2 separate regions of the Homo sapiens genome follow, and region 1 is linked to region 2. The links come from fine-mapping of genetic effects on gene expression. Tissue or cell type: whole blood. Region 2 holds a variant in brackets; the other region holds the start of a gene. All regions are shown on one strand. Distances are between the middles of the regions.

Evidence for each region. PIP is the estimated chance that this variant, and not a neighbour inherited with it, causes the effect.
Region 1: C8orf33 starts here. The variant in region 2 is fine-mapped to the expression of C8orf33 in whole blood (TOPMed, PIP 0.91).

The regions. Positions count from the first base shown.
Region 1 is chr8:145,050,534-145,054,691 of GRCh38, reverse strand. C8orf33 (chromosome 8 open reading frame 33) reads right to left here and starts at 2,225. Exons shown (of 5, transcript NM_023080.3): 1 at 2,195-2,225; 2 at 1,795-2,106; 3 at 1,546-1,630; 4 at 1,249-1,395; 5 at 1-674. The coding sequence starts at 2,200. The coding sequence ends at 535. RefSeq lists enhancers at 851-1,651, 2,580-2,629, 2,670-2,799 and a silencer at 2,300-2,369.
Region 2 is chr8:144,971,362-144,975,519 of GRCh38, reverse strand. It overlaps the pseudogene ZNF252P. Among named protein-coding and RNA genes, the nearest start is that of ZNF16, 23 kb to the right of the region's middle. The variant G/A (reference allele first, on the strand shown) is at 1,956.

The sequences.
Region 1 (4,158 bases), 79 kb before region 2:
TGGACCCAGGGATACCACACCCCTGCATCTTCTGTACTTCCTCTAACATAGGTGGTCAGCATACTCTTTCACTCCTTATCCAATTTTATCAAAAATAGAGATTAGGGCAATATGACATAACAGCATTAAGCACTAAACCATTTGACAGGGATTCCTTTCAAAAGTGAAAACCAGTGTACGATTATACAGCTTCTCCACTAATCTTTGTTACCAACAGCCACTTAATCTAATCCTAAAGACTGAGTACAATATTCCTTCTACAATACTTTGAACACTCACTTCAATTTATTGCATATTTTCTAAATGCACCTCTCTCTCTCTTCTGAAAGAGAGAACATTTCATCAGAAAACGAACGGGGTCTTTTGCCTATCTGATGGTCTCACACCTTCACAACAGCTACAAATCCTTGGACCAGCCAGGGACAGACCAACTCCAGGGTTCTCTGACAACAGAAGTCCTGGAAAGGCTCTGCACTCAAAACAAACCCCTACACCACCCCAAGGGAGGGGGATTGTTTCAGGTTCGGGGAGACGCTAAAAGAAATTGAACCTAAACTCTTCATCAGGCATGTCCAGAGTGGCTTTGGCTCTCCATATAGAGCGAGGCCTGCAGACCCTTTGGCTCTTCTTTCTGGTGGCTCCATCTACAGGTTGCACCTGGGCTGAATAAGCAGCTGTCGGGGAGAGAAGCAGCGTATGTCAGAACTGAATAATAACAATTAACATTACCTGTACAGTTATGTTTGCCCATACAATTCTAACCACCTTGCATAAATTAACTGATTAATTCCTCAAATTTGTAAGGTTGATATTACTATCATCCCCCACTTAGAGAGGTTCAGTAGTTTGCAAAAGGTGTTAGTACTACTATGTGGTAGATCCAGGATTTGAACCTAGCTGATCTGGCCCCAGGAATTGCACTCAAACTGTTATGGGATATGGCTTCATTGCTAGTAGAGAAAGCCAAGACACAAAGACATGAGGCAGCTTTCCCCAACCCAGGAGCAGGACCAACATAGGACCATGCTCTTTCCCACTCCTCCCAGGGCCTCCCCGCTGCTTCCCAGGTTCAGTCCTAGGAAGAGGAAAGAGAGGTCCACGCTTTCTGTTTCCCTGCTCCCTCAGGCTTCCCTGAGCCCATCTCCTTCCCCCACCAGGCTTGTTGCTCTGGGCCTTCTTCCTTTCACCCCCTAGACACTTCCTCCTTAAGTTAGGCCTTCCTGAATCAACCAGTGGCTAGCTCCTCACCAGCTCTGAGAGCCCGCAGGGCCTCACGCCATTCGGCTTCCATCTGAGCCCTATAGTCTCCAAACAAGGAGTGCATCAGCTGCCTCTTCCGGGGCAAGGGCGTTCTTTTGCTGCGCAGGGTTCGGATTGCTCCAATAGCCTGCTCTTCTGCGAATAAAAATAAAGGACTAGTGAACACCTCTATTACTGACCTCCTACCACCCCGCCGCAAAGCCAACAACTCCATACTCTGCCAGCACCTGCAGGCCAGGCAGTGCCACTGTTCACATCCCCCAGCTCTACAGAAGGGTCCCTTACTCTGTTTCGGGGTGGGTTTCTGCCTCTTGAGGCCCAGCTCCAGTTGCTCCACACACCAAGCCAATTCCTGGGCCAACTGTTGTGCCTGTGATGGATTTGGGGAAGTGGCTGTGAGAGGGCACTGGAAAACCATAGCCGCCGGCCCCATCCCATGCCCCTCCCCGCCTTAACTCCGCGGACCCCAGATCACACGTGCCCGTGGATTCGCACCCGTGGATTCCACCCTTCCCGACCGAAGCCCGCCCTTGCCTGGGCCTCAGCGCTTAGGGGAACTTCTTCTGGGGCGAGTTTCTCTGAGGCCTTCTCGCCTCCATTTGCCACAGAGGCCCTGTTCCGCGTTTTCTTCTTATTCTTTTGTTTTTTCGACGCTGTGCCGCCTTCATCGCCCAACGGGTGCGCTCTGGAGTCAGCGTTACTGCACGTAGGTTGCTCTGGGCAGAGACAGACAGTGGAAGGATTCCGGGCGCTGGAAACTGGGCCGGGAAGCCGGGCTCCGCGGGACGCGCAGGGAGTACCCGGGCCTGGGGCCGCCGCTGCCTCCCCAGCAAGATGTCCCAGGGCCTGGAGAAAGGGGGGTAGCACGAGGGTCACCGAGAGCCGCCAACAATGCAAGGCCCAGCCACCCGCGCGTCTTCTCCACACCGCTCACCGCCATGCGCCGCAGTCGCCACCGGAACTACGCGGGGCGCAGAGTCCGACGCCGAATTCCGTCCTTCAAGAACGCGCCTGCGACTCTAGGTTCCGCGGGGCGCGGGCGGGGCGCGGGCGGGGCGCGGGCGGGGCGCGGGCGGGGCGCGGGCGGGGCGCGGGCGGGGCGCGGGCGGGGCGCGGGCGGGGCGCGGGCGGGGCGCGGGCGGGGCGGGGCGCGGGCGGGGCGCGGGCGGGGCGGGGAGCGGGCGGGGCGGGGCGCGGCTGGGGTGGGATGAAGCTGGGACGGGGCGAAGCTGGGACGCGCCTGGGACGAAGCTGAGATGGGGCTGGGGCGGGGCCTGGGGGTTCGGGGAAGAGGCTGAAGAGGGGTCTCGGAAGAACCCTTGTGAGCGAGTGATCGCGGGCGCTGACTACGTGCCCGGCACCTTTCCGGATAAAAGTTCAAAGCTCTCCACGAGGGTGTGTCTTCTCAAGGCTCACCTTTTGGTGGGGAGGGAAAAGCAAGTAAACAGCACGTGAGCAGCTACGGCGCAAGAGGGTGGTCGGCAAAGACCCTGGGAAATGGGGAAGAGCGAGGGTCAGGGCGCGGTCGTTTGAGAGGCCGGCGTCTCGGGACGTGGAGGCTCGGGTGAGGTCTGAGAGTTGGGAGGGCCCCCGTCATGGGCTTACTTCCGTTCTAACGCAGTGGGAAGTCGCTGCAAGATGTAAATCTGAAGAGTGGCATAATCGTAGACGTATGTTCTGCAGATCTCTCTGCTCTTGTGTAACGAGTGGGGCACATGGGGTGGAGGGACGTGGAGGGGTTTCAGAAGCAGACGCGGGAAGAGCCTTGGACAGGATATGGACGTGAGGGAGGGTGGCGGTATGGGGGAGAGGGAGAGCCCCATCCCACCACCTCTCTTCCCCTGGATGCTTCCCTCCCACTATACCTTGCTAGAGACCTGGGGTCACACACAACACTCGACCCCCGCCGATGGAGGCATGACAACCGAGAGGAATTGCGTAGGGGTTGAGGTGAGGCTGAGTAGGGTTTCAGGGGGGCAACGGGCTATGCCAGGAGGGTGGGTTGTGTTGCTTGAGAAGGTAAGAGTCCGAGATGTCTGATGATTCCTTTCGGGGACACAGGAGTGGAAAGCGGTGTTTCCTGAGACGGTGGGGTGGGAAGTGTTAGCTGCCTGGTCTGCAAGGTCTCGAAGGGTTACAGTTTGGTCATCACTGATAGTTATTTACTGCAGTGTGATACATTACTCCCAAAATTCGGCGGATTGGCCGGGCGCGGTGACTCACGCCTGTAATCCCAACACTTTGGGAGGCCGATGCGGGCGGATCACGAGGTTAGGAGTTTGAGACCATCCTGGCTAACATAGTGAAACCCCGTCTCTACTAAAAAATACCAAAAAATTAGCCGGGCATAGTGGCGGGCACTTGTAGTCCCAGCTACTCGGGAGGCTGAGGCAGGAGAATGGCATGAACCCGGGAGGTGGAGCTTGCAGTGAGCCAAGATCGCACCGCTGCACTACAGCCTGGGTGACAGAGCGAGACTCCATCTAAAAAAAAAAAAAAAAAAAAAACACGCAGAATTTAAACGGGACACGCAGTAAAGGAGATGCGGCATACAGTAATTTATTACAAAGGAGAAAGAATATTTGGAAAGTTAAGTGAACAATAGACAGTACACCCTGAGAGAGAGAGAGAGGATTGAGGGCCAGCTGCTCATAAGGTTGGGGCAGCAAAGACGCATGAGGGAGACTCCCTTTATGGGGGTCTTACATGATTATTCATAAGGAATTGGGAAGAGGTGCTACTAGTGAGTATGTTCTGGATGGTCCTCTGAGTGCACATGTGCGGTAGCTGTATGTTCTTACATGCTTGTTCATACAATGCTTCTTGTCATACAATGCTTGTTCTACATGCTGGTATATGATTGTTCGTACATGTCACATGTCTTATTAGCATCTTAAA
Region 2 (4,158 bases):
TATATCCAACTAATTCAAAATGGGAAATTGTACATTTTACTTAAACAGGATTTGGTAGATGGGTCTTCTAGATATGTTGTCATGAAGAAAAATCAGGAAAATGTCCAAGGGTGGGAGCCTGTGGCTTATGGCTTCACTTACCCATCACAGATAGCTATGTTACACTGCAAGAACAGAGTTCATGGCTTTTCCTGAGGTGGCTGGAAACCTTAATCTCCTGAAGTTAAGTCAAAACTTAAATGTCAATTCACCCAGCTCTCTTGCCTGCAGGCTGATCCAGGGACTTAGAGCTTGTTACCCAGTTACAACTTCTTCTAGAGAAGAACTTTTAAGAAGGAAGCAAAAAGAAATTCAGTTTCCCCCAAGGATCTCTTCTTTGAGGTTCCATCAAGAGATGACAAAAGGAGGCTGGGCGCGGTGTCTCACACCTGTAATCCCAGCACTTTGGGAGGCTGAAGTGGGCAGATCACGAGGTCAAGAGATCAAGACCATCCTGGCCAACATGGTGAAACCACATTTCTACAAAATGCAAAAATTAGCTGGGCATGGTGGTGCACGCCTGTAGTCCCAGCTACTTGGGAGGCTGAGGCAGGAGAATTGCTTGAACCCAGGAGGCGGAGGTAGCAGTGAGCCAAGATTGCACCACTGCATTCCAGCATGGCCACAAAGCAAGACTCCAAAAAATATATATATATATGACAAAAGGGTTAGGAAGCTTTTCCTCTGAGGCCCACGATTACACAACCAAATCAGAAAATAATATTTTTTTTGTTTTAAACCTGTTTACATAAGATGGAGGTGTTTACTTAACTAAGAACCTCGGTATTTACTCAAATCCGGTTTTGGGTTTTATGGCTAAAACATTTCTCCAGATTAACCTTATCAGTTTGGAATATGTTTTTATTTTCCATTAAATATTTCATCCAAATCATACTGAATTTTATTTATCATGGCTTTTAATGTTCTCTATTCAAGTCAAATTTCTGTTTCCTAATTACTTGGCTTGGTGATGGCATTAATATTGGTTGGGAGCTAGATGGTCTCTGCTCTATTTGATGATTGGCATAGAGCAATCATACACTTGGTACTTCCTAGCATTTTTTTTTGAGACAGTATCATGCTGTATCATGTTGCACAGGGTGGAGTGCAGTGGTGCAGTCATAGCTCACTGTAACCTTGAACTCCTGGGCTCAAGTGATTCCCCTGCCTCAACTTCATGAGTAGCAGGGACTACAGCTGTGTACCACCACACCGGCCTCTCCTGGCTTCTTAACCACTTACATTAAAATTGAGAGGAGAAAGGCATTTTCAGTTTCTTTAGTTAATAAAAAGAAGCCATTTCTGGAGGAGTTTTATGCCTGTACCAGCAGAGGTTCAGCCTTCCAGGAATCTCATCATGATCCATACTGCTGACACAGGCCTTTGTCACCTGAAGCATTCTTAAAATAAGGAGACTGACATTAAACAGGACAATTGTGAACTCCACTTTGTAAGCATCATACATATCTTACAACTCATTCTGAAGACTCCTTTATTCTTGCTCTTCCCAGAGAGCTACTGTGTTTAGTCATGCTCACTGCACTCACAAGAGAAAAAGAGTAAGTGGCATATTTGCAGGTGTTGATGGTTACAAGAGCATTTTTACTTTTTCCTCCATGTTTGTTCTGCAGCATTTCCATTGATGCATGCTATTGTAGACTTCTTAGGTTGACCTTGGCCTTGACCTCCACCACTAGCTCATGACCCAAAACTGAAGATGTGCATCAGAAAGGGACAGATTTGGTCTTTCTGCTGTAAAAGATATTCTGCCTTAGTGCCTGCTAATTTGTTGTGCATAGTCCTGTGCTGCCAATCTTCCCCACCAATTGTTAAGGTTAATGTGTGTTTTATATGTGTATTCACAAACATTAAAATGTAATCAGTGGATTCCATTATTGCCCATTTTCATGTAAGGT[G/A]GGAGGCACTTTGTATGGTTGGGAATCTGTAAGATCTTTAGGACTAAAACTCCTGCCTCTAATCCCAATTTATGAGGCCCTGACTCTCCAGGCAGCATGACTTAGTTGGATTTTTCTCTGCCACGAAACCTGCCAAGGCTTCTTCATCACCCAAAACCCTCCCATGACCAACCTGTATGAAAAGAGGGGCAAAGGTCATTATTAATCACAGACATGCAAAATGATATTACAAGATGTCATTTTACCCTCACTAGGTTGGCAAAAATTAAAGATCTGACAGAGAATGACACCAAATATATTTAGCAACAGTTACTCTCATACGCGGCTGATAGGAGTGGAAATTGGTATGACACATTGGAAAATATTTTGGCATTATTAATACAGTTAAAAATTAGCCCTGGCCAGATGCACTGGCTCACACCTGTAATCCCAGCACTTTGGGAGGCCAAGGCAGGTGGATCACCTGAGGTCAGGAGTTTGAGGCCAGCCTGGCCAACACGGCAAAACCCTGTCTCTACTAAAATAATTAGCCAGGTGGTGTGGTGGGAGCCTGTAATCCCAGCTACTCAGGAGGCTGAGGCAGGAGAATCGCTTGAACCTGGGAGGCGGGGGTTATAGTGAGCTGAGATCGCGCCCCTGCACTCCAGCCTGGGCGACAAAGCGAGACTTCGTCTCAAAAAAAAAATTATGTAACCCACAACCCAGTTCCACTCCTGCACATACATGTTGGGGATGTACTTGCATGAGAACTAGAAGATGTGTCCCAAAATGTTTAATAGCAGCTGTTCCTGTAATAGCAACAAAAAAAAAAAAAGAAAAAAAAACAAGTCCAGTGTTCATGGAGAGGGGGAGAAAAGAAGTTTGATTGTAAGTATAATATAGCAGAAAACTACGTCAAAATCAATTACCTGCAGCTACACACATTATTCTTAAAGCTGTCACTTTGCAGGGGAGTGTGGATTGTTCCCAATATCGACCAACTTTGATTGCTTCCTGTAGTGAAACTCCAGGAGACCTGGGAAATGAGGGAAAAGTGTGACCTGAGAGAGAGAGTGCCAAATAATTGGAAGATTTTTCCAGCTTACTGTTGGCAGAAGTGTGGGTGATATGAAAGGGAGCAGATTCTAAGGCTGTTCAACTAGAGATAATGTAATGTTGGATTGGACTGGGTTTGTTATATGAGTGCACACATGGCAGGCTGTGGATTCACTGTGCTAGTTGCAGTAGCAGCTTGTTAATGGAAGTCTATATTTGGTCATGGCCTCCATTGAGTGAGGCTGACATGCAGAATTGCCTGATTTTACAACAGAGAATGGATTCAAAGGTTCAGGAGGTGCAAGAGGGCACTCCTTTCACCCAGGCTTAGAGAAGTGCATTGATGAGGGAATAGTAACGTCCAGGAAAGACTCTGTAGTGGCTGTTTTATATAGTCTATCAAAGGAAGTAGGAGAGACTGTTATGAAAATGGATTTAGGCTGGGCGCAGTGGCTCACATCTGTAATCCCAGCACTTTAGAGGCCAAGGCAGGTGGATCACTTGAAGTCAGGAGTTTGAAACCAGCCTGGACAACATGGTGAAATGCCGTCTGTACTAAAAATACAAAAATTAGCCAGGCAGGGTGGCAGGTGCATGTAAATCCCAGCTACTCGGGAGGCTGAGGCAGGAGAATCACTTGAACCTGGGAGATGGAGGCTGTAGTCAACCAAGATCACGCCACTGCACACCAGCCTGGGTGACAGAGCAAGACTCCCCTCAAAAAAAAAAAAAAAAGAGGAAGGGAGGGAGGGGGAGAGAGAGAGAAGGAAGAAAGAAAAAGGAAAGGGAAGGAAGGAAGAAAGGGGAAAGGAAAGAGAGGAAGGAAAGAAAAAGGAAAGAAAAGAGAAGGAAAGAAAGAAGAGAAAGAAAAGAGGATTTAACTCAGTGGGAATGGTCAGGACCAGATGGCAGCATGTAACCCTGTCATAGACAGGGAAGTTGTCACTGTAACAGGCCCAGGGCCACAACAGTAATGAGAATGGTTTGACCATAGAGGTTTTGACCCTGAGTAATGATGATGGTGACTATGGACTGAAATAGGTAGACCGCCCACTAAAGTCTTTATCAGTATCAGTGAGTCATTAAGCCTTTACAGACACCTGACTTGGATCAGCACAACAGTCATCGACCTTCACTTACTTCCTAGGCTTGAGCCAGTTCAGACCTA